7 linked regions of the Homo sapiens genome follow. The protein of the gene in region 6 purifies or fractionates together with the protein of the main gene of each other region. This does not show direct contact. Each region holds a gene or a part of one and is shown on either strand. Other genes may lie near its edges. The genes, in order: PPM1G, HEATR1, CSDE1, PEX13, SLIRP, ARHGEF39 and LBR.

Region 1 (3,500 bases), on a different chromosome or scaffold from region 6:
TGAATCTGGACAGAGTGAGATTCTGTCTCAAACAAAAAGTTCAAACATCATTAGCCATTTAGCCATCAGAGAAATACAAATCAAAACTACAATGAGATACCATCTCACACCCACCATTAGTTATTATAAAAAAGGTGGATAAGTGTAGTGAACATGTGAAGGAACTGGCATCCTCATATATTGCTGGCAGGAATGTACGACGGTACAGCAACTTTGGAAAACAGTTTAGCAGTTTCTCAAAATGTTAAACACGTAGTTACCATATGACCCAGCACTTCCACTCTTTGGTATATAACCAAGAGATATGAGGACATATTTCCACACAAAAATTTGTACATAGTATCACTATTTATAATAGCAAAAAAAAAAAAAAAAAGTGGAAATCCAAAATGTCTATCAACTAATGAATGGATAAACAAAATGTGACAAATCCATACCATGGAATATTATTCAACCATAAAAAAGAACGAAACACTGATTGATTCATGACACAACATTGATGACCCTTAAAAATATTACGCTTGGCCGGGCGTGGTGGTTCATGCCTGTAATCCCAGCACTTTGGGAGGCCGAGGCAGGCGGATTGCCTGAGCTCAGGAGTTCGAGACCGCCCTGGGCAACACAGCGAAATCTCGTCTCTACTAAAATACACACAAAAAATTTAGCCGGGTGTGATGGTGGGTACCTGTAGTCCCAGCTACTCGGGAGGCTGAGGCAGGAGAATCGCTTTAACCCAGAAGGTGGAGGTTGCAGTGAGCTGAGATCGCATCACTGCACTCCAGCCTGGGCGACAGAGGGAGACCCTGTCCCCAAAAATAAAAAATTAAAATTAAAAAATTATGCTTAGGCACAACTATGATACATCAACTGAAAAATATCAGGCTGGGTGTGGTGACTCATGCCTGTAATTCCAGCACTTTGGGAGGCTGAGGTGAAAAGATTCCTTGAGGCCAGGGGTTCAAGGCCAGCCTGGACAACACAGTAAGACCCTGTCTCCATGAAAATAAATGAATAAACAACAATAATTAAAACTGACCTCCTGGAGATAAGAAAAAGAGTTAACTAGGAGATAAGAGAAAATTCAAGAATTGTTAAGTCATTAATTTGAGATGGAGTTCTGGGTCTTTTGCTTCCCTTCCATCAACTAAGTGAGGAAGGTTCCAACAGAAACAAATGGGAGTGCCTAAAAGAAAACTAGCATCTCTTTCCTGGTTACACAGGCAACAGACTTGGTGATCTGCCTGAGCTCTGTCTATCTGAACAGAAGGAGAGAATTTTAAAAAGTGCCCACTGGAGCCTGAACCATCCTGCTGGTATCCATCCAAAGGAGTCCAGCAGTATGAGGTCAAGGATACACAGCAGGTGGTAAAAGCCACAGAAAAGTCTAAAAACCAAAAGTGGAGATCAAGTCCCTCTGGGCCAGGCCTGGCTATTGCTGCAAACACAGAGATGGTGAGTGATAACTGGATATGAGACTGGAGTTTTAAAGAGATTTCTGATTCTATTAAGCTCTGTAAAATAAAACCTGCAAGGCACTGATCTAGAAAGAAGCAAAAGAACCTTGGGTCAGCAAAATACTTATTCTTAAATCTACTACAACAATGTATGTGTGATTTTTTTAAAAAGAAACTTACAGGCAAAGCTGAGGGGTAGAGGGAATACTTGGGGTGGAGAGTAATTTACTCTTCCAGGGGCCAACAAGCTTTAAAGTCAATTTCAAAAATACACATGCTTAGTAAAAGCATCCAGATATAAAAGGTAGTGTATTTAGAATTCCATTTATAAAATGTTCAGAATAGGCAAATTCATAGAGGTCATGTAAATTAGTGGATGCCAGGGGTTAGTGGACGGAAGATAGGGAGTGACTGGTAAAGAGTACAGGGTTTCTTTTTGGGGTTCTAAAACTGATTGTGGTGACAGTTGTACAACTCTGTTTGAATACACTACAAAACAGGCAGGCACGGTGGCTCATGCCTGTAATCCCAGCACTTTGGGAGGCTGAGGCAGGCAGATCACTTGAGGCCAGGAGTTCGAGACCAGCCTGGGCAACATGGTGAAACCCTGTTTCTACTGAAAATATAAAAATTAGCTGGGTGTGGTGGCGTGAGCCTGTAGTTCCAGCTACTCAGGATGCTGAGGCAAGAGAATTCGCTTGAACCTGGGAGGTGGAGGTTGCAGTGAGCTGAGGCTGCGTCACTGCACTCCAGCCTGGGTAACAGAGCAAGACCCTGTCTCGAAAAAAGAAAAAAAGAAGAAAAAAAAGAAAATATACTAAAAGCCACTGAATTATACCCTTAAAATGAATGAATTATACCCTTAAACCCACTGAATTATACTCTTAAAGTGAGTTCATATACTGTATGGTATATGAACCATATGTGGTATGAACCATACAGTATATGAACTCTATCTCAATAAAGCTGATTAAAAAGGAACCTGTAAGAAATAAATAAAATAAAAAGGAACCTGTATACACATTTTCAAATACTAAATATGATTAAAAGGTGTTGTTTTTCTGCTAGCATTGGGTCAAAAAGGAAAAAAAAGTTGATATACTTCATCTCTGAACTAGATCTAGAAAGAAACAAAAACAACTACACTGAAATCATACTCTGTCTACAAAATGTCATTAAACATCTTAAGCTCAGTTCTAAAGATTTGTTTCCAGATAATACAATGTCAAGAACTACTGATCAGACCTGTATAAATTTCTATGTTCAAATTCAAGCCCTTACCTCTCAAAATTCAATTCTAAGACTAATAACCCAATAGAAGATTAGAGGTTAGGGAAACAGTAGTAACAACTGCTAAGGAATCAGACAATAGAACTTTGTGTAAAATATCCTTGAAATCTTGAGGAATACGTTCTGATTGTATTTTCCAGTTGCTTGAGAACTTATAAGGCAATGGTATAAAATATAAAATAATTTCTAGACCAGGCATGGTGGCTCACACCTGTAATCCCAGCACTTTGGGAGGCCGATGTGGGTGGATCACGAGGTCAGGAATCGAGACCATCCTGGCTAACATGGTGAAACCCCGCCTCTACTAAAAACACACACAAAAAATTAGCCAGGCGTGGTGGCGGGCGCCTGTAGTCCAGCTACGCGGGAGGCTGAGGCAGGAGAATGGCATGAACCCGGGAGGCGGAGCTTGCAGTAGCTGAGACCGCGCAACTGCACTCCAGCCTGGGTGACAGTGTAAGACTCCATCTCAATAAATAAATAAATAAATAAATAAATAAATAAATAAATAAATAAATAAAATAAACATAAATAAAATTCCTCAGCCTGGGCAACACTGCAAGGCCCTATCTCTACAAAAAAAAACTTAAAAAAAAAAAATTAGCCAGTCATGGTGGCATGTGCCTATATTAGGCTGAGGCTGGAAGACCCCTTGAGCCCAGAAGGCTATGCAGTGAACTATGATCGAGCCACTGTAAAGGCAGATAAGTGTAGTGAGGATGTGAAGGAACCGGCACAAGAAATCCCATACTCCTT
Region 2 (3,500 bases), on a different chromosome or scaffold from region 6:
TGTACAAGCAGTACAGAGTAATAACTTAGAAGGAAAATAATCCAAAGCCAGATTTACAATGTAACGTCTCCAGTGAGGGATTTGATTAACTCAACGTGCTGCTACAGGCGAAAACATGCTCATGACCTCGAGAAAGGTATTAAAAGTAAAGCAATATAAAATAACCTGTTATCTACATATGTATAATAAAACACTCTATTTGTCCATACTTTTAACACTGAGAACCAGTATAGTTCAGGTCATCATACTTCACAAAAGACACCAAGAAACTAAAAGTTAAGAAGGGCCTATCTGGACTATTTTTCAAAATATGAAGATTTTACTCTTTTTAAAGTTTACACATTTTAGCTAACAATGGCCATGATCAGAACTTATAAAATCCTGCGGGTATACGTAAATGTGAAAAAGATATAATTCATTTAGTAAATCCTATAATGAGAAGCCCTCTAAAATTTGGAGGACAAATAAAAACAAAATCCTTACATATAGCAGATATTAAAAAAAAAGTCTTGCTACCTCAAAACATGTCAAATGTAAACAGCTGAAACATGTCCTTTAGTAATACTATGAAAGACAGTAGTAGGCTGGAGGGATACACATCTATGTAATATTAAAATTATTTAAAGCCTAAAAGATCTATTTTTAGTAAACAATTGAATGAAATAGTATTTTGTTCAAGCACTAACACACCAAGTGAATTCTTCATCGCTAGAGGTAGTTAGGTGTAGCTTGGGTAATTATCCAATAAAGACAATAAAAGAGAGGAGAGTCAGGCATCAGATACAAAATATTGCAACCCTAAAATTTTATAATTCAACTAAACTTTCCGCAAAAGCAAGGGAGTGCCTAGTTGACTATCTCACTGCTACCCAAGACTGCTTCACATTTCATCCAGCTACTATCCACAGACTCAACATCTCGCCTCTGATTTTCAGTTTTGCTGTGACTAATAGGCCAGGCTGTTGTTTTATTCAACATCCCACTTTCTGGAGATTCTGCTTTCCTTACCACTGCAGTAATGACACTTTCAAGCTTCTTTATTTTTTTCTGCAACAAACTGAAGACTCTTATCGCAAATGGAAAGTGGGTTTCTTTTAAAGATGAACAACAAGAGACGAGCACAGACAGGATCACATGAAACGTTACTTTCTGCTTCAGGTTAAAGGACTCCTCCTCACCCACGCTTATTAAATCCTCCACCTTGAAAAATAAACACACTCTATTACCAGTTGCTCTTGATTTTCATAAAACAATTTTTTCAACTCAGGTCTATCTAGGTATTATGTGTTTTACATTTAAAGTGAGATGACAAACAGAAAGCCTTTATAAAGTACTAAGCACTGATTTCTAAGTAATTATAAGAATAATTTCAGAAACTGTAATGAACATAATTGCACTTGCCAACTGGTTAATGTATTTAAATCACACATCTAATCCTTTACAAAGGTTTATTTAATAAGGCAAAGATAATTTTCTCCTCTTTGGGATTATATTTTGCTATTTTAACAACAACAACAACAAAAAGACTAATATTTTAAATGGGAATGAGAAAAAATGGTGGTAAAAAGGATATATTATTCTTATGGGTGTGATATGGATCCACATTGAAAAAATATATAAAATGTTAAAAGATTTCAAACATTGCACAGAATATATTAAACAACACTGCAACGTTTAAAGTAAAACCAAGTACTCAAGAATAAAAGAAATTTTTTTTAAGAAAAATCTAGTAAAGCAAAAGCTGAGAATTTAATAAGAGTATGAGAAAGAAATCCAGGGGGTGGACTTTCAAAGCATACTTACCATCTTTAACATTGAAGAAGGATCTCCTAAATTTATATTATCAGCCAACAACTCAATCATCTTCTGATTTGCTACACCGATTAGTTTTCCTGGCTTTGTGCTTTTAATTACATTTTCAAGAGCTGTAAAGTAAAATCGAATGCAGAGAGCTCTTATGTCACCAACACTCAAAGAATCACATGAAGAATTCAGGCAAACATTTTACTATTGTTTATGAAGGTTTGCTTTCTATTTTTCCTTGTATCCGATTCTGAATTTGTCTATGAATTGGCTTCCTTTTCACTGTATACTTTTTATCTTGGCAAAAATTTTAAAAGACCTTACTGGCATATAAGCATGACCAACAATAAATTTTAAATTTTCCTTGTTTTCTTTTGTGTTATCTGTTCACTTTTTCTAAAAAAACAACTGAATTTTTTACCTTCTTCCCAGCCTCTTAATAGAGGGTGCAGGGAGCAGATTCCTGATTTTGATAAATATATAGCAATTTTCATCTCAGCAGATTCCGTATCATCATTATTGATAACCATAAATGGCAGCAAACATACAACCACCTGATTTGACAACTGATCATTTTCACTCAGTATCTCTTCTTTAATTAATATGTCAGCGGCTATCTTAAGTACCTCGTACCTAAAAGACATGCAAGCACACTTGGTTGAAAGACACATTGGAAGGCTTCAATTGGGCAAAAATTCATCATTACATTACTCCAGCTTAACTGACAATATCCTGGTCTCCTGACCAAAACTATTATTCAGATACACTAAGACACCACTTAAAATCCATGCCAATAACAGAGTTATCTGTGACAATATTTTTATTTATTTATTTTTTGTACAAGTGCTGGGATTACAGGCATGAGCCACTGTGCCTGGCCAACAATACTTTTAATCTGCTCATCCTGTCTAATCTTAAAAAAAAAATAATAATTTTTCTTAGAGAAATCACTAGAGGTTAACTATAACATAAGACATATCACACTAGATGTCTCAACTCTACCGGAAATCAGGTTCACTCAGGCACTCAAAAAAAATGAACCAAGCACATCCTACATGATAGATATCTACCCATACGATAGATACAAAAACACGTAAGACACACTCTCATCCTCTATGGAGCTTGCTTACTTTTTCTTGCAAAAAGCTTTGGTGCCAAAAATGAAATAAACAGAGCTCATTAAAAACTTACCACAGATGGTATCATGTGTCTCTGAACTTATTTTTTAATTTGTTTAACACATTGGTATTTGTTTTTAATTATAAAGTAAAAATTACATAAAGCAGCAAATTAGAAAGTCCTACCCATCTTACTTCCCAGAATGCAATATCATACATTATATACTTCCTTTTGCATTTTATTAAGAGAAATTCCAAACATAGAGAACAGTATAATGAACACACACAAACACAAATTAATTAACTGTATAATGAAAGAGAGTATTACAGTAAGATCTGTTCTACTACCACGACAAAAGGGTCATGTAATCAAAGCCTTAAAAAAAAAAAGAAGAAGAAATAGAAAGAACTTGATATAAGAACTTCATCAATTCAAAATAGTATGAGGAGAAATGAATACATACCATTCTCCATTCTTTGAAAGTTCTGCTCTTTGAAAGAGATTCAGAAGATTTGAAATCGTCACTTCTGAACTGAAGTGTTCTTTGAAAATCTAAAGGGAAAAAAATATCCAGAGTA
Region 3 (3,500 bases), on a different chromosome or scaffold from region 6:
AACTTTTCTCAGAAACAACTCACAGGAACCACAGTAAACTCTACTTCATCTGCAATATGGAGCTGGTTCCCATCCAGAATTTCACTGAAGTGGAAGAACATACGAACATCACGATCCACACACTTGATGAAACCAAAACCATCTCTCATGGCAGCAATCACACCCTGAAACCCAAATAATATTTTCACTGGCTGTGAAACTTGTCAAGAAGGCAACATTCAACTTTACAACCACCATCAAGTTAAATTCATCAGGAATTTTCTCTGATGTGACACAAATACTGTATCCACATTTGAACTGTTCTCACTTAAGTACAAACTCATTGCTTTCAACAAAGTAACTTAACCTGAGCAATTTTCTAAGACTCTCCAATTGCTACTTCCTGGCAAATATGCACTAGAAAAAATTACCACATGTGAACGTAAACACGTGAACACAATGTATTTCATAAAAGCCCAAGTCTAATGACAATATAATCTCCAGAAACTTCACTAATTTACAGACCATAATTCCAAAGTAGACAAAGGCACTTCTCCAGTCTCTACCTCAAAAATTGCATGAGTTTAGGCCCAGGAAAGAGTTAAAATTTACATCTGAAGAATAAAATATATGCAATCTTTTCTCTTTTTTTTTTTTCCTTCTTACTAAATTATCAGCTTTGTAAGGCTTACTGTATCAAGAGTACCTGGAACATGGTAGATACTCATGTTTAATGAAACAATGAACACAAATTATCAATCTGCTATTGTATTACATACTACATATCTGCTCACTGCAGAAGTGATTCTGTAAGTTTTAAATATGACCTAAACAATATTTTGACATTTAATCCTTGCCAAGTCCTGACAGTAGCCAAGTTATATTTTCCATACCGTAAAGCAAAACAGATCTTGCCTTTGAAAATGTAAAAAAAAAAAAAAAAATCACACATTCAGACTTACAAACTTTTAAAGTTAAATACACTGTGTCAAATACAACCAGTTCTTCAAAGGCAAAGGATTAAAAAAAACTCAAGAAACTTAAATTTTCATTCAATGTACCCAGTTCCACTGGCAACACTGAGTTATAGTGTAGATGATATGATCCCAAACGTAACTAAATGCAAATTATGTCTGAGAAAATGAGTTCATAAAACATGTTTGGGAAAAAATCTGGTTGGTTTATGCCACTCCCAGACACAAACTCTTAAAAAACAATTTGTGAAGTTCTGCCAAAACAAAACCTTTTTGACTCTGGTTTAATTGCAAGCTTGTCCAAACCATGGCCTAGGACAGCTCTGAATGTGGCCCAACACAACAAATTGTTAAACCTTCTTAAAACATGATGAGATGTTTTTGCAATTATTTTTTTGAGACAGTCTTCCTCTGTCACCCAGGTTGCAGGGCAACGGCATGGTATTGGCTTACTGCAACCTCTGCCTCCTAGGTTCAAGCGATTCTCCTGTCTCAGCCTCCTGAGTAGTTAGGATTACAGGTGCCCACCGTCACACCTGGCTAATTTTTCTATTTTTAGTAGAGACGGGGTTTTACCATGTTGGCCAGGCTGGTCTTGAACTCCTGACCTCAAGTGATCACCCGCCTCAGCCTCCCAAAGTGCTGGGATTACAGGTGTGAGCCACCGTGCCTATGATTTTTTTTTTAAAAAAGCTCATCAGCTATCATTGCTGTTAGTGTATTTTATGTGTGATCTAGTGTCTAGATCATGGGTGTTCAATCTTTTGGCTTCCCTGGACCACACTGGAGGAAGAATTGTGTTTCCTAAAAACAGAAACCACTAATTAAATGTCTTAGGAAATAGTTTGGGAAAATCTACTTTCTACAATGATGAACTTGAATTTTCTTACTCTTCATATTAAGGGCCTGAGAATCACTGACTCTAAAAATATCTTAGTAATCCTGTCCAGATTTCCATTCAAAAAATTTTTTCACATATATTTCCAAGATAACTGCCAGAGATAACCCAGACTGACTCAAATGTGTATGATTCTTAATCACCTTAACAAGGTAAATGCCCATTAGGGTCATTTAACTTAAGAAAAATTTTAATTTAGTAGTATAAACTTGAATATAACATTGGCTTTCGCATATTAGATACATATCCAGTAATATCCAACACTTACCATTTCTCGGGCTTCATTAGTGAACTGAAATGTATTTGACAGAACTTCTATATTGGTTGCTCGCTCTAATTTGTCACGTCGGTCTGTTGAAATATTAAACCTAACATGGTCACCTTCCAGCAGGGTCACCTTGGATTTCGTATCTTTGTCTCCAAAGGGAAGTTCTTTAGGGATCACAAAGTCAACTTTGATGCGTCCTGGCAATGGGTCATTCTGATGAGAAGGAAAAACGATTTTAGCTGGAGATTTCTCATCCTTCCTAGTTCTAAGTCAAACAAGAAGAACACATAGTAAACCCATGTTATTTTTAACTTAGTTCCCTGAAGCGAAAAAAGGTGTTGACAACATAAGTCCAATGTGAAAGCTTCATGGTCTATGGTCACACGAGTCAACCATAAAATTACAACAATGCAATTAAGACCCAGCACTCTGGTACCAAAAGATTTTATTTAAGGAATTTTTCCAGGAATGACACCACTTGTGTCCTCACCTTCCCCACAAACTGGAGGGGTAGGGCAGGGGCAGAGGAGGGAACAAATGTACACCTGAACTGCAGTCTAATCCAATCAGGTGCTTTCCAATTTAATTAGCATTTTCTTCTTTGGCCTTTTTTCATCACCCAGTAAAAAAAAATACATATTTGGCTGGGCGAGGTGGCTCATACTTGTAATCCCAGCACTTTGGGAGGCCAAGGTGGACAGATCGCAAGGTCAAGAGATCGAGACCATCCTTGCCAACAGGGTGAAACCCCGTCTTTACTAAGAATACAAAAATTAGCTGGGTGTGGTGGCATGCCCTTGTAGTCCCAGCTACTTGGGAGGCTGAGGCAGGAGAATCGCTTAAACCCGGGAGGCGGAGGTTGCAGTGAGCCGAGATCGCGCCACTGCACTCCAGCCTGGCGACAGAGCGAGACTCTGTCACAAAAAAAGAAAAAAAAAAAAAAAAACACCATATTTATGAATATATAAATCTGGTTTCTCTTTTAGTTTAAATATACGTAACAAGAGGTCCTTAGTTGTTCCACTACCACATTATATTAACTGAATAAGATAAAATCTCAGTATACCACACCATATTATTCTATTACTACTGAGGCGAAATAGGACTCTCCTGAAAAAGATTATTTACCTGGTTTTTACTGGGTACTTTTGGGATAACTTTGGTTACAGTTCCTTCAAAATGTTCAATGCTGATATCTTCAAAAATGACTGTTCCTTGAGGCAATAGTCTGACATCTGTTGCAACTTCTTTACCCTAAATCAGAAGGGGTTGGAGGTGGTGGGGGGACAGAGGAAGGAAGAATCACATAATTTTAAGTGTTTCTTAAAAACATAAACCAACTCTGATCTTAAAAGGCCAAAGATCAAGTTAACTGACTGTC
Region 4 (3,500 bases), on a different chromosome or scaffold from region 6:
AGACTGCTGCACTAGTAGTGAGCAAGGCTCCGTGGGCATGGGACCTGCCGAGCCAGGCACAGGAGGGAATCTCCTGGTCTGCCAGTTGCGAGGACCATAGGAAAAGCGCTGTATTTGGGCAGGAGTGTACCATTCCTCCAGGTACAGTCACTCATGGCTTCCCTTGGCTAGGAAAGGGAAATCCCCTGACCCCTTGTGCTTCCTGGGTGAAGCGATGCCCTGCCCTGCTTCAGCTCGCCCTCTGTGGGCTGTACCCACTGTCCAACCAGTCCCAGTGAGATGAACTAGGTACCTCAGTTGGAGATGCAGATATCACCCGCCTTCTGCGTCGATCTTGCTGGGAGCTGCAGACCGGAGCTGTTCCTATTTGGCTATCTTGGAAGCGACTGCCCGCAAAAAGGTATTCTTTTTAAAACCTAAGTCGGCTGGGTGTGGTGGCTCATGCCTGTAATCCTAGCACTTTGGGAGGCTGAGGTGGGCAGACTGCCTGAGCTCAGGAGTTTGAGACCAGTCTGGGCAACACGGTGAAACCCCGTCTCTACTAAAATACAAAAAATTAACCGGGTGTGGTGGCCTACACCTGTAGTCCCAGCTACTCAGAAAGCTGAGGCAGGAGAATTGCTTTAACCCAGGAGGTGGAGGTTGCAGTAAGCTGAGATCGCGCCACTGCACTCCAGCCTGGGTGACAGAGCAAGACTCTGTCTCCCGAAGAAAAAAAACAAAACAAAAAACAAAACAAAAAAAAACACCTAAGTCAGGTCATATTACTCCTTTGCTCACAAATCTCCAGTGGCTTCCCATTTTGGAATAAAGGCCAATGTTCTTACACATGTCTACAACTTATACCATCTACTCCCTTCATCTCCTGCCACTAACACTTTGCTCCAATCACACTGGCCTCCTTCCCGTTCCCATGATATGCCACTTACATACCTCTACATTTTTGCTGTTCCCTATGACTGAAAACACTCTTCCTTCAAAGAGCTGTAGGACTTACTCCCTTAACTCCTTCAGGGAGGCGTTCCCTGACTATATGTAGCACTGCAACCCCTGTTCCTCCTCCTGACACTCCCAAAATTCTTCCCAGTTTTGTTTTTTCCCCTATAGCACTTACCAGTACCTTCTGGCTTACTATATATTTTACTTATTTATTTACTGTTTCTCCCTATTAGACTGCCACAAAGGCAGAGATTTTTAGAATATATTTTATTCATTGCTATATCCCTAGCTCTGAGAATTCTTTGGTATGTAGTTGGCACCCAACAAATATTTATTGAGTTAATAAAACATTATCCTTCTAATAACCCAAATTTAAAGGTCTAGGGCATTTTGATTTCTACTTTGCCTTTATATACCTCATTTAGTCAGTAACTACATCCTCTGAATCTATTATATGAATCCTGCTTCTCACACACTCTATTTTGGGTCTTCATTATCTCTCAAACAGTCTAATGCAAAAGTATCATTACTGATGCCCCCAAATTAATAAATATCTATTAAGTACCTTCTATGTGTCAAGCAGGTTAGACAGTAGGAATACAAAGGTGAATACAACCCAAATCCTTTATGAACTTTACCACCTAATTACAACGTGCTGACTTCTACTGATTTATCTTAAACCCTTCAGACTGACTTTTTCGTTTACATGTATGTCACAGTCTGCTTAAAAACAAAAACAAACATAAACTACCAAAAAACCATCCATTCCTTATGTAAAGATTAAGTCTCATAATGCCAATTAAGAGCTTCTACTATTAGCTTTCAACCTAATTTCTCAGCATTATTTCTTACGATCCAATGCAATACTATAGGACAACTACCAAATAAATCTCATATTTTCTGCCTATATACTTTTGTTCAAGCTGGTCTATCAGCTTGATAGTTTTTGTTTCTTTATCTAACTTTTGAAAGGTTGCCTAGCTTTCAAAAATCTAACTTAGATGCCATTTCTTCCTGGATACCACAGTAAAAAATGTTAGCTTCTCTTTTCTAAAGTGAGCTAATACTCTCTACTAGTTGAGAGAATACAGCTTAACATTCAACCAGTCCTGGTTTTGTTTATAGTTCTGCCTTATTAAAGATGTGACCCTAGGTAAGTGAGTTCTCTGGATCTCAGTTTTATCACTTGCAAAATGAGGATAATTCCTATCTCTTTGGATTGTTGAAATAATTAAATGAGATAAAACACACAAAATACCTAGCACAGTGTCTTGCATATTAAAAAAGGTTCAAGAAACCTTATGTCTCTCCCCAATTGTTATATTTCTTATCACACTTTCTGCCTCATTACCTGTATATGTGTCTTAAACCACCTCCCTTCCAATAAATTTTAGAAAGATAGGAATTATGCCCTATGTATCTTTGTATCCTCCACAGCACCAATTTCAGTACCTTGTAAACAGGTAATGTGCACTATTAAACTGAACAATAAACTAATCAGCAAGCCTATTTTTGCTATATATTCCTCTGCCAGTTTTGAAGCTCTTAACTGAAAATATAACTGGAAACAGTAAATACAAATCAATATAAAGAAAACTAACAAATCTATTCTTGAAATTTGAGATTGTTATATGGTATCTGAACCTGTTCCCTTACAGTTCTCTTACCTGTTACTTCATCACTGTGAGTAGACAATAGTTTCCAAATGAGGTAAGGACCACCAAGGATAACAGCAAAGAACAAGAATATTGGCCAAGATTTTGCTGAGGTAGCTGCTCGGTCCTCAGCACCAAGGCATGCCACAGTTCCTTCACTCTCTGCCCAGAGGTCTTCATTCTCAGAGCCTCTTCTTAAACCTAACATCCGCTGTAGCCGTCTGTAAAGATACCGTATAGTCCTAACCAATGCAAAAGCTGAAAACACTTTTGTAAAGTGTATTTTCAATCGGGAAAAGTGATTTGCTACATCCAATACAGCCCTGAAACTGTTATAGACAGCTGAAAAGGTAGCATCCATCATCATACTGACAGAGGCAAATGCATGCACAATACTTTCAATGGACTGAAATGCACCCCTGCTGCTTTCTTCAGCTTGCTGAACAAATCTACTGGGTGGAAGATCATCTACACGGAGGCGGTTGTAGCCCAGCCCATTATATCCATAACTATAAGGACTATAGCCTCCATAAAATGAATTTCCATAGGCACCATATCCAGAAGAAAATGAACTGTAAGCAGGTCTAAAAGTGTTCACACTGCTACTTCCTGTCTGCTGTGATGGCCTTGGAAGAATAGGTGGGGGCACTCTGGTAAGTGCTGGTTGTCCAGGTCTTGTCATTAAAGTAGGACCCAAATCAGCAGATCTAAAACCAAAAAAGATTCAAAACAGTTATTTAAGCATACAATAAATTCAATTCAAAGTAAGTATTAAACATCTCCTATATACCTGGTGCTATGACAAATTCTACTGAAGACTGATTAATTGATTTAGAGACAGGGTCTCACTCTGTTGCCCAAGCTGGAGTGTAGTAGCACAATCAAAAGCTCACTGTAGCCTCAACC
Region 5 (3,498 bases), on a different chromosome or scaffold from region 6:
AAATGCTTGAGGGGATAGATACCCCATGCTCCATGATGTGCTTAATTTACATTGCATGCCTATATCAAAACATCTCATGTACTCCATAATAAATATACATATTTATATATATAAATATATAAATATATACACCTAATAATATATAAATATATATAAATATATACCCAAATAAATATATACACCTACTATACACTCACAAAAATTGTTGAAAAAAAAGCTTAAAGTGTTTTAAAAAATTCTTATCTTGCAACAGGGTCTCGCTCTGTCCCCCTGCAGGGGTGCAGTGGCCTGATCTCACTGCAGCCTCTGCCTCCCAGGCTTAAGTGATCTTCCTGCCTTGGCCTCCTGAGTAGCTGGGACTATAGACATGTGCCACCATGCCCAGCTAACTTTTTTGGTATTTTTTAGTGGAGACAGGGTTTCGCCATACTGTCCAGACTGGAAAATTTTTTTAATTTTCATTTTCTTTAAGAGACAGGGTCTTGTTCTGTCACCCCAGGTGGAGTGCAGTGATGCAGTCATGGCTCACTGCAACCTCTGCCTCCCAGGCTTAGGTGATCCTCCCACCTCAGCCTCCTGAGTAGCTGGGACTACAGGCATGCACCACCACACCTGGGTAATTTTTGTATTTTTTGTAGAGATGGGGTTTCGCCATGTTGCTTATGCTGGTCTCGTCGAACTCCTGGGCTCAAGCTATCCGCACACCTCGGCCTCCCAAAATGTTGAGATTACAGGTGTGAGCCACTGTGCTGGCTTATTTTTGTGGAGATGGGGGTCTTGCCATGTTGCCCAGGCTGATCTTGAACTCCTGGCTTCAAGCAATCCTCCTGCATTGGCCTCCCAAAGTGCTGGGATTACAGGCGTGAGCCACTGTGCCCGGCCTACAGTCTTTATTGATTACATTTTGAGTGATACTTGATTAAAAAGTGAAAAAGCTTTATCATAGGTATTTGTGTTAGTTTTTTTATTGTTGTATAACAAAATACCACAAGCGTAATGGCTCAAAAACAACACATCTCTCACAGCTGAGCACAGTTTAGCTGGGTCCTCTCCTTAGGATCTCACATAGCTATATATTCCAGGTGTCAGCTGGGGCTGTGGTGTGTCTCATCAAAGGGTCAACTGGGGAAAAAGACTGACTTGCAAGCTCCCTCATGTGGTTGGCAAAATTCCTTTTTTTTTTTTTTTGAGATGGAGTCTTTCTCCCTTGCCTAAGCTGGAGTTGCAGTGGTGCAGTCTCAGCTTACTGCAACCTCTGCCTCCTGGGTTCAAGCCATTCTCCTGCCTCAGCCTCCTGAGTAGCTGGGACTACAGGCATGCGCCACCACGACCGGCTAATTTTTTTTTTTTTTTTTTTTTTGAGACGGAGTCTCACTCTGTGGCCTAGGCTGGAGTGCAGTGGCGCGATCTCGGCTCACCACAAGCTCTGCCTCCTGGGTTCACGCCATTCTCCTGCCTCAGCCTCCTGAGTAGCTGGGACTACAGGCGCCCGCCACTACGCCCGGCTAATTTTTTGTATTTTTAGTAGAGATGGAGTTTCGCTATGTTGGCCAGGCTGGTCTCGAACTCCTGACCTCAAGTGACCCGCCCGCCTGGGCTTCCCAAAATGCTGGGATTACAGGTGTGAGCCTTCATGCCCGGCCATAATTCATCTTTAACTGTAGGACTGAGGTCTGTTTTCTTGTTGACCTTTGGCTCTGAGTTGGGAGCTGCTCTCACCTAGGAACTCCCTGCAGTTCCTTGTTACCTAGTTTATCTGTAGGCTGTCTTACAATATGGCAGCTTGCTTCTTTAAAGCCAGCAAGGGCTTCTCCAGTCTGCTTAAGATGGCATCTTATACAGAACATAATCACAGGAGTGACATCCCATTACTTTCGCTGTATTCTTTTGGTTAGAAGCAAGTCAGGTTTCTCCTCCACCCAAGGAGGGGAGGAGATTATATAGGGTGTAACATGGGGAATGCATGGAGATCATGGGGCCCATCTTAGAATTCTGCCTACTACAGTATTCTAATAAGGACTTGAGATTTCTAATAATTGGCAGAGGATATTTTAAGTTTTATCTTCATTGAGTACCATTTTCTTTTTTAGATTTATAACTAATAAAACAATATTTTTATATTAATTACATTTCCTTTGCTTTCTTGTGAGGGTTTAGAAATCAGCCTATAAATTTATCCTGGGCTGTATTTTTCTGTGGGCTTTTTTAGGGTGTGATGTGAGTACATAGAGTTCACACACACTTCACTGAAACCCTTTTTTCCTTGCAGCACTGTAAGGGCTGTGGTAAAATAACAACATAAAGGAACTTAAATTCTTAATTCTTGGTTTAATGTTACTTGACTCCCAAAGACTAACAGATTAGTTATATATAGTGCCGGTGAAGGTGTAGGGAATCTGGCACTCAAGTTGTTGAGAAGTTCAACTGGTACCTTCAGTTCTGTTGTGTAGTTGGCAAAATACCAAAGTTAAGAATTTATATTTGCTTTGATCTAGCGGTTACTTTTCTAAGAATTTATCCTACAGAAATGTGTGGTCAAGAATATTCCAAAGCAGCATTATTTAATGTCAAGTAAGAAGAAGAAACTTAAATGTTCATCACTGGGATTGATTAGATATTAAGTCACTGATGCAATGGAATTTTATATAGTTGAATAGAAAAGTTGGGCACATGTATTATGGACATGAAATATTTTCTGTAAGTTTGAAAACTTCAATTTTTTCAAGAGCATTTAAATAAAAAGTTCCTTGCAAAAAAATGAATAGATTTTTATTGGTCCATAAATAAAATAGGACCTGCAAAGAATAGATCTTAGATTTAAATAAAAGGCGGCTTTGATGTTGGTAAAACAAAATAAAATATGACAAAAAAAATATTTTTTTGTTCCATTCATTGTACTCTAGTTGGAAATCCTGGTTCCTTTTTTGAGACAGGTTCTCTCTCTCACTCAGGCTGGAGTGCAGTGGCACAATCAAGTTCACTGCAGGCTTGAACTCCTGGGTTCAAGGGATCCTTCTGCCTCTGCCTCCTGAGTAGCTGGGATTAGTCGTGTGCCACCACACCTGACTAATTTTTTGTACTCTTTGTAGAAATGGGGCTTCACCATATTGCCCAGGCTGGTCTCGAGCTCCCGCACTCAAGCAGTCTACTCACCTCAGCTCCCAAAGTGCTGTGATTACAGGCATGAGCCACCACACCTGGACTGAGTTATTTTTTTTGAGACAGCCTTGCTCTGTCGCCCAGGCTGGAGTGCAGAGGCGTGATCTCAGCTCACTGCAATCGCTGCCTCCTGGGTTCAAGTGATCCCCCTTCCTCAGTCACCCAGATAGCTGGGACTACAGGCATGGGCCACCACACCCAGCTAATTTTTGTATTTTTAGTAGAGATGGAGTTTCACTATGTTGGCCAGGCTGGTCCCAAACTCCTGACCTCAAGCCATCCATCCACCTCAGCCTCCCAAAGTGCTGGGATTGAGCCACTGCACCTGGCCTATGTTTT
Region 6 (4,240 bases):
CCACCCAAAGCACTAACACACACTGGCAGCATTCACAAACACACCCATCACCAACTGCACCCCAGGTGTTGTGGTCTACTCTCATCACCTGGGCTCACAGTGACACCAATTACCATGGGATTATCTGTCCTCTTCCATGTTTGAGCTCTTAGTGTGTGGACTGTCCCACATTCACTTGAGACAGTGTAACCAGTCCTTTACCTATCTGGTATCACCACCAGTTTCCTTGGGACATAAGCCCAAGGTACAGTCTGATCCAAACTCTCCCCTTCCTTCATCCAAGCCCTTCAAGTTATTCCTCCCTGGTCTAAGCCCAGCATTATTCCTTTCTTAGAATTCTTAGAATGTCAGAGCTGGTGGGGAGGTGGTAGAGACCTCAGAACCCTGACAATCCTCTGGTTCTTGGCTTGCGGCCCAGATTCCTAGGAGTCCAAAACAGTAGGGAGGGAGCCTAAAGTTTCTGACATTTTGTTTTTTTTAATAACTTTTTTTTTCTAACTACAAAGTAATGCATGCTTAATGTAGAAAACTTGGGAAAGGCAGAAGTATAAGAGAATTTTTAAAATCACCCTGTTTGTCCCATTCATCCCTTTAGCTTCAGTGATCCAGTGCCTGGCACAGATACAGATTAGGTACTTAATACACATTTGTTAAACACATTATCTTCAATTCCATTACCCGGAGATAAAAACCACAGTTAACTTTTTATTTTTATTTTTTATTTATTTATTTTTTTTTTGGAGAGATGGAGTCTCGAACTCCTGGGCTCAGGTGATCCTCCTGCCTCTGCCTCCCAAAGTGCTGGAATTACAGGTGTGAGCTCCCGTGCCTGGCAACAGAGTTAACTTTTGATTGTTTTGCCTTCCAACATTTTATATATGTTTTATACAAAGGGGATTATATTATACACCTTTGTAGCCTGCTTTTTTTCCTCTCAGCAATATACTTACTATGTGCGTTTTCCCATATCGATAGCTTCTTTACAACACCATTTTTAATACTTTCATATCATTCCTTCAAATGGCTATACCTTTTCCTAGCCAATTCTGGGAACAACTGACCCCCTGGCATTTGGCATGGGCCCAGGACAGAATGTGTACTGTAATGACCGCCCCCCGTCCCAATTCTCCAGATAGGACATTAAGTTCCTGCCAGCATCTGCAGCCCGTCTCCTGACTCAAAGTTCAGGCTGCTGCTCCAACATAGTGCCACTCAGAGGAGGGCTCCACACCTGCCCCCAACCTTGCCCTGCCCTGCCCTGCCTTGGCCGGCGCCGCGCACCTAAAGCGCCGCTCTGGCGGTGGGGCTGGACAGAAGAGACCCTGCGCGGTCCGGCCGCTCGCCGCGCATGCTCCTTCCTGCGCGCTGCCCTCCCCGGCCCCGCCTCCGCGGCTCCCGCCCGCGAGCGGTTGGGATTTGAATCTGCCGCGGACTGCAGCCGGAAGTGTCGATCCCTCAGCCAGGGCATGGAGCTCTCCTGCCCCGGTTCGCGGTGCCCGGTGCAAGAGCAGCGTGCCCGCTGGGAGCGGAAACGCGCCTGCACCGCCCGGGAGCTGCTAGAGACCGAGCGGCGCTACCAAGAACAGCTGGGGCTGGTGGCCACGGTGGGGGACCTGGCACACGCTCCCATTATAGGACAGGGACCCCAGGGTGTGGGAGGGTCTCTGCGAGGTCGGTAACCCGGAGCATGTAGGGAGCCTGGGCAGACTTCTGCGGTTTCTGGGGGCGCTTGGCGTTAGCCTTCTCTTCCTCTAGGCTAAGAACCAATGTTCTCTCCTTCCGCAGTACTTTTTGGGGATCCTGAAAGCCAAGGGGACCCTGCGACCACCTGAGCGCCAGGCCCTGTTTGGCTCCTGGGAGCTCATCTACGGCGCCAGCCAGTGAGTGGAAGGGGCACAGGGAGAGGAAAGGAGGGAGAGTCCTGGCCTGTGGCCGTGCACAGAGCTTGGAGTCAGACTTAGGTTCTATTTGGAGTCCGCCAGTTAGCTCACCTGTGGCCTTGGCCCAGGGCCTTAGCATGCCCTTGTTCTCCATCTGTACAATGGGGTAATAGCACTACTATTAGTGCTATTCTCATGAAAACTAAATGAGGTGGTGCTTGAGTGGTTCTAGAGCTGCCCTTTTGCTGTCCTTGCCCACACAGGGAGCTGCTTCCCTACCTGGAAGGAGGATGCTGGGGCCAAGGGCTGGAGGGCTTCTGCCGCCACTTGGAGCTCTATAACCAATTTGCTGCCAACTCAGAGAGGTCCCAGACCACCCTGCAGGTAACCTGGAGATGACCTCAAATCTTGCCCCTTACCTTTCCCCTTCATCTGGAGACCCAAACTTCATACATTTCCTGCATTTATAGAGCCCTCTGGGTGCTCAGCTCTGTGGTAAGTTCCTTGTAGAGAAACGAGAGTTTCTCTCAGGAGCACAGCTTACTGAAGGCTGGGAATGTGGATACAGATGAATGCAATATAAGGAGTGGCTTCTCTCCCTGCTTCCAATCCTTTCTCCCTCACTCCAGGAGCAGCTAAAGAAAAATAAAGGTTTCCGGAGGTTTGTACGGCTTCAGGAAGGCCGCCCTGAGTTTGGGGGCCTTCAGCTCCAGGACCTGCTCCCTCTGCCTCTGCAACGGCTCCAGCAGTGAGTGAACTCTTGATTCCAGCCGCCTCTCTCTTTTAGTTTGTATGACTGCTGCCCTCAGCTTTGTGGGATGCCTTGGGGTCGATCCCAAACTCTTGCCTCGACCCTGAGCCAAATTGCTTCTAAAAACCTTTTGCAAGAGTAAATGTGAACCCATTGGAGTACCCAGGGTCTGCAGCCTGAGGCCCTCAGCTGGAACTGTGGAACTTTAAATTGAAGTGAGGGGGCCTGTACTAGGGCCTGAGGCACGGTTTCTGGAAAAGTTTCAGATGCGGGGCTGGCCTGGGTTAGAATTTCTGTCTCTGGGTTAAGCCTGAGTTAAGGGCTATAGTCAGGCTGTCTGTAGCATCCTCCTTGGGTTGATAAACTTTCATCTTCCAATCTGGCCTCCTGAAGTATGGCTAGTCTGCCAGTGACTCTTCAGTGTGGGATGGAAGAGGGCTGTGTGGTGTGAGCCTGGTTCTGAGTCCTACATGAAAGAAGGGGATACAGTAGCCAGAAGCAGATCTTTCCTGGCCTTCAATTGAAGTATGGGTAGAGGGTGATCTGCACATCAGGCAGGGGGAATTCTGCCTGGCTCTGCTTCCCCTCAGACTTCCCACTGTTGAATTCCAGGTATGAGAATCTCGTCGTAGCTTTGGCTGAAAACACAGGTCCCAACAGCCCTGACCATCAACAGCTCACACGTAGGTTCTTGCTCCTCGGCAACGCAGGCTGGAGGCTTCCTCTCCTGTATTCCTTTCTGATTCTGACCTCCAACAATGTCTGGTATGACCCTATCTTCCACTGACATGTATACAGTGTCCCTACTGCTCTGCCTTTTCTTCAAGAAGTCAGACCCTGACCCTGGTCCCTTCCAGAATAACCTCTTTCACAACCATGGCACCCAAAGTCAAAGTTGTATGGGGAGTAAGGTGGGAGATGTTATTCCAGGGGCTGCCCGACTGATAAGTGAGACTGCCCAGAGAGTCCATACTATTGGTCAGAAACAGAAGAATGACCAGCACCTTCGGCGTGTCCAGGCTCTGCTCAGTGGACGCCAGGCAAAGGGGCTGACCTCAGGTAGCTTGCCTACTTCCCCTTCAATCCTCAACTGCCCCATCTTTTATTTTTATCTAACTCCAAATGCCGACCAGCTGCTCTTTTCTTACTCACCCTTCTTCCTGTACTGACCCAGCACATAACCCCTATTTTCTCAGCCTCCCTTTCCTCTTATTCCCATGTATCTTGAAGCTGCACCAGAATAACAGCGCTCCCATCCCCCAGGGCGCTGGTTCCTACGCCAGGGCTGGCTGTTAGTGGTGCCTCCCCATGGGGAGCCTCGGCCCCGCATGTTCTTCCTCTTCACTGATGTGCTCCTCATGGCCAAGCCTCGGCCTCCACTGCACCTGCTGCGGAGTGGCACCTTTGCCTGCAAGGCCCTCTACCCCATGGCCCAGTGTCATCTCAGCAGGGTCTTTGGCCACTCAGGAGGCCCTTGTGGTGGGTTGCTCAGTGTAAGTAATAGGTGGGAACCCTAGACCCAAAATATGTCTCAGATGCTTATGGGCTGGTTTATCTCCCTGGTCTGGGTCCCTTTTCATAGGAACAGAGCCATCTACATTGAGAGAGG
Region 7 (3,500 bases), on a different chromosome or scaffold from region 6:
CTCGCACTGTAAGAGCATGTGCTGAGTGCTTCAGTCCAGCTTTGTCATTTGAAGACTTTGGCAAAGTACAGATCTATTTTGTAGTCATCCTTGAATGATTTTCCATTTGACAAGACGGAGTAGAGTGTTTTCCTTTTCTTGAGAATTACATTATGTATTGTAATGGTTGAACTTTTTATCCTTTCAATTCTTCATTTTTTAACTTTGGATACTTTGTTTAGAGACTTACGCAGCATCTACTCTGTCTGCAGTCACTCCACTGGGTTCTAAAGGGGAAGCCAAAGATAGTTTAGACACCTTCTGCCTTTTAGTGCCAGTCATGTGATAAAACGTCTCCCCCAGCTCCAGAGTCTGACCCCTGGTGGGTGCTTAATACTTATCATTGGTATTGTTAGACTTTTTGTTGCTTTTACCAAATTCTTTGCTGATGGAGCAAGTTTTAGAACCTTTGGCACCCTCCCTCCCTCTGGTGGTTCACTTACCACACCAGGGAAGGTGAGTCTGGGGTGAGGTGGGTTGTTGACTTTGCCGCCAGGTCCTTTGATTTCAGTGTTTTGTGTGTTTCTCTGTAGGTACCAATTCTTTTCTAAGTAGTCTTGTGTTATATTTTCACTTCCCTCTGAGGGGTGTGGTACATTCAGAGACTGAGCACAGCACTTGGACATGGAGCTCTTGGAGCCAGTGGGGGAGTGGCTGGCCAAGTTGCTTGATCCTTTTTAAAAATTTCCTCATCTAATTACTCTGGTTCAAGTATTGAGATTTCTTTTCGAGATTTTACGATTATTAACTAAGGAGGTTCCTAAGACATTTTGGATGATTATTTTTAATCCACATAGGCTAGAGAGCAAAAGACTGCTTTATCTAACCATTCTTTTTTAAAATTACATTTTATGAAAGGTAAATGAATATTTTCAAAAGTCAGAATTTAGAAGTTATTGTTTGGAGTATTTGTGGAAAATGTGGATTCAGATAATTTGAGACAACTATTTTACTTTACAAAAGGTTTGGTTTTAGAATTCTCATATAAATAACAGCTACCTCTTTTTTGCTTTTGACCGTTTATCCAAATGGATTTGATGACTTTTTAGGATCACAGCTCTTTGAGGCACTCAGCTCCTTTGAAAGCAAAACTATTTCTTTAGCCAAAAGAAAAAAATTGGATCTTCCAGTGAGCCTTTCTGTGTGGCTGCAGGACTAGCCCGGAACGAGAGTTCTGTGGAGCGTCACAGGGCGGGTGCTTTTTAACTTGGCATTGCACGTGAATGTCCCCGCCTGCTGTCCCTACCCCCCAGGTACTCGCAGTCCCCTGCCTAGCCTCGGGCATTTGTGTTGTGGCATCTTTTCTGCGGGTGGCATGTTAAGATCTCTGTTCTGGATGATAGAGTTTTACTAGAATCTTTTGAAACCATTATTGGCAACTTGGTTAAGTATAAATATTTATAATTTTGTAACTACCAACCTGGCTCGGTGCCTGACCCCTGGTAGGTGCATAATACCCTCCCCTTAGGTAATGGCATTAGACTTTAAAATATGTGTTTGGCCCAGCTCTGTTAATAATTAGCCATTTGACTTTGTGCCTGAGAGTTTGGATTGTGGGAATTTTCAGGTTGCACTTCTTGTCTGTTTTCCCTTAATTAAAAGCAAATAATGACCATTTGAACTGAAAAAGAATCAATATGTTAAACTATTTGGAAAGTTCTACAAGAGATAATGGTATGTATATTGAAAATTATACCTCAGACATTGCTTATTTGCATATTTGTGTGTATTTAGTCTGAATAATGAAATTAAGACTTTAAAAATGAACATTGCATTGTTTCATAGTGGCGTAAGTTTCATGTGAGCCTTGGGTTAATATTAATTTTCCACTTCCTTTTTTTTTTTTTTTTAAAGGATTCTATGCTTTTATCCTGACATCTGCAGTCATCGGAACATCTCTCTTCCAGGGCGTAGAGTTTCATTACGTGTACAGTCATTTTCTTCAGTTTGCACTTGCGGCCACTGTTTTTTGTGTGGTCTTGAGTGTGTATCTCTACATGCGCTCTTTGAAAGCGCCCCGGAATGACCTGTCGCCTGCCAGCTCTGGTGAGCAGTGATGAATTGCATGTTGGATGAATGCGTCCCAGAGCCCTCCAGCAGCCATTTCCAGATTTGAATAGATTGCTTTTTTTCTAACTTCATTTTTGGGAAATGAAGAGAAGTAAGAAAAAATGAAAAGATGAAGAAAAACGTTAAAGAGATATGAATTTAAAGGAAGAAAATATTTTTGTTTTACCTTCATACTTTCTTACTCATTTCTTTTTTTTGCAGTTGCTTGATGACAGTAAGACGTTTAGTAAACTTACAGGCATTTTGACTTATGACAAATATTATTTCTTTGTCCAAAATAGTAAACACTCTTTAAAAAACAAAAAACAACAGAGGTTACTGGCCGGGTGAGGTGGCTCATGCCTGTAATCCCAGCACTTCGGGAGGCCAAGGCGGGTGGATCACCTGAGGTCAGGAGTTTGAGACCAGCCTGGCCAATATGGTGAAACCCCATCTCTACTAAAAATACAAAAATCAGCTGGGCGTGGTGGTGCACACCTATAATCCCATCTACTCGGGAGGCTGAGGCAAGAGAATCGCTTGAGCGTGGGAGGCGGAGGTTGCAGTGAGCCGAGACTGTGCCACTGCACTGTAGCCTGGGCCACAGAGCGAGGCTCCATCTCAAAACAAAACAAACAAAAAACAAGAGAAACGAGAGGTTACAAATTGGTTGATGCTGACCTGAAGTATTTCAATATAAAAAAATGTCGCCTATCTAAAAAAAATGGAGTGTAAAGTCCTTTGGGGGGGCCCCCATGATTTTGGTTAACTTTTTTAAGAAACCTGGGCCCCCGGCTCCCCCAAAGGCTGGAGCAACTGCCTTTTCAGTCGGGCAGGCATCTCCTGGTTCCGCTCGTCTGTGCCGTCCTGTCTGCCTCTCACCACCAGAGCCCTGCTCAGGGTCTTGCAGGCAGTGGAATTGTGAGCCTGGATAGTGGGCGGCAGTGCCGTTGTAAAGCCTCCTGACTGGGTTTGGAATGCTGTTTGGGTAAACACTTTTCCTTTCTCAGGAAATGCTGTCTATGATTTCTTCATTGGCCGTGAATTAAACCCTCGAATTGGTACTTTTGATCTCAAATACTTTTGTGAATTGCGCCCCGGATTGATTGGATGGGTATGTCTGGTTTTTTTTCTTCTAAATTTCAATTCAATAGGTCTAATTAACTGCTAGAAAGAAATGTAGACCATTCAAAAATAAGCAGTGGGTGGTATATTTTTAGGGATAATTATGGCTTTCCATAAATCTATCAAAATACTTTCTTGTAAGTATTTTCCAGAGGTTTAAGATGCCCTGTTACAGGTTATGACAAATTAAATAACTTTTCTTTGCTTTATTTTTATTATATCAGTTTATATTTATGTAGGAAAGTGATAGTGTGGATGAATTAATGTAAGAAAAAATGCATTTTCCT

The links.
Region 1: the proteins of ARHGEF39 (region 6) and PPM1G purify together in Homo sapiens (affinity purification with mass spectrometry, with the first as the bait; one large-scale study listed by BioGRID). This does not show direct contact.
Region 2: the proteins of ARHGEF39 (region 6) and HEATR1 purify together in Homo sapiens (affinity purification with mass spectrometry; one large-scale study listed by BioGRID and IntAct). This does not show direct contact.
Region 3: the proteins of ARHGEF39 (region 6) and CSDE1 purify together in Homo sapiens (affinity purification with mass spectrometry; one large-scale study listed by BioGRID and IntAct). This does not show direct contact.
Region 4: the proteins of ARHGEF39 (region 6) and PEX13 purify together in Homo sapiens (affinity purification with mass spectrometry; one large-scale study listed by BioGRID and IntAct). This does not show direct contact.
Region 5: the proteins of ARHGEF39 (region 6) and SLIRP purify together in Homo sapiens (affinity purification with mass spectrometry, with the first as the bait; one large-scale study listed by BioGRID). This does not show direct contact.
Region 7: the proteins of ARHGEF39 (region 6) and LBR purify together in Homo sapiens (affinity purification with mass spectrometry, with the first as the bait; one large-scale study listed by BioGRID). This does not show direct contact.

Annotation. Positions count from the first base shown.
Region 1 is NC_000002.12:27,399,592-27,403,091, forward strand, and holds part of PPM1G (protein phosphatase 1G), read right to left. Parts: intron 1-3,500.
Region 2 is NC_000001.11:236,584,017-236,587,516, forward strand, and holds part of HEATR1 (HEAT repeat-containing protein 1), read right to left. Parts: intron 3,475-3,500; coding exon 3,386-3,474; intron 2,437-3,385; coding exon 2,225-2,436; intron 1,926-2,224; coding exon 1,804-1,925; intron 1,201-1,803; coding exon 1,009-1,200; intron 1-1,008. UniProt on the Homo sapiens protein: Ribosome biogenesis factor; required for recruitment of Myc to nucleoli. Involved in nucleolar processing of pre-18S ribosomal RNA. Required for optimal pre-ribosomal RNA transcription by RNA polymerase I.
Region 3 is NC_000001.11:114,730,485-114,733,984, forward strand, and holds part of CSDE1 (cold shock domain-containing protein E1), read right to left. Parts: intron 3,374-3,500; coding exon 3,248-3,373; intron 2,333-3,247; coding exon 2,120-2,332; intron 165-2,119; coding exon 24-164; intron 1-23. UniProt on the Homo sapiens protein: RNA-binding protein involved in translationally coupled mRNA turnover.
Region 4 is NC_000002.12:61,031,220-61,034,719, reverse strand, and holds part of PEX13 (peroxisome biogenesis factor 13), read right to left. Parts: intron 3,302-3,500; coding exon 2,607-3,301; intron 1-2,606. UniProt on the Homo sapiens protein: Component of the PEX13-PEX14 docking complex, a translocon channel that specifically mediates the import of peroxisomal cargo proteins bound to PEX5 receptor.
Region 5 is NC_000014.9:77,711,103-77,714,600, forward strand, and holds part of SLIRP (SRA stem-loop-interacting RNA-binding protein, mitochondrial isoform 1 precursor), read left to right. Parts: intron 1-3,498. UniProt on the Homo sapiens protein: RNA-binding protein that acts as a nuclear receptor corepressor. Probably acts by binding the SRA RNA, and repressing the SRA-mediated nuclear receptor coactivation. Binds the STR7 loop of SRA RNA.
Region 6 is NC_000009.12:35,662,396-35,666,635, reverse strand, and holds the start of ARHGEF39 (rho guanine nucleotide exchange factor 39), read left to right. Parts: upstream 1-1,440; 5' UTR 1,441-1,466; coding exon 1,467-1,604; intron 1,605-1,785; coding exon 1,786-1,880; intron 1,881-2,143; coding exon 2,144-2,264; intron 2,265-2,509; coding exon 2,510-2,628; intron 2,629-3,243; coding exon 3,244-3,314; intron 3,315-3,561; coding exon 3,562-3,690; intron 3,691-3,894; coding exon 3,895-4,124; intron 4,125-4,240. UniProt on the Homo sapiens protein: Promotes cell proliferation.
Region 7 is NC_000001.11:225,411,039-225,414,538, reverse strand, and holds part of LBR (delta(14)-sterol reductase LBR), read left to right. Parts: intron 1-1,893; coding exon 1,894-2,085; intron 2,086-3,098; coding exon 3,099-3,202; intron 3,203-3,500. UniProt on the Homo sapiens protein: Catalyzes the reduction of the C14-unsaturated bond of lanosterol, as part of the metabolic pathway leading to cholesterol biosynthesis.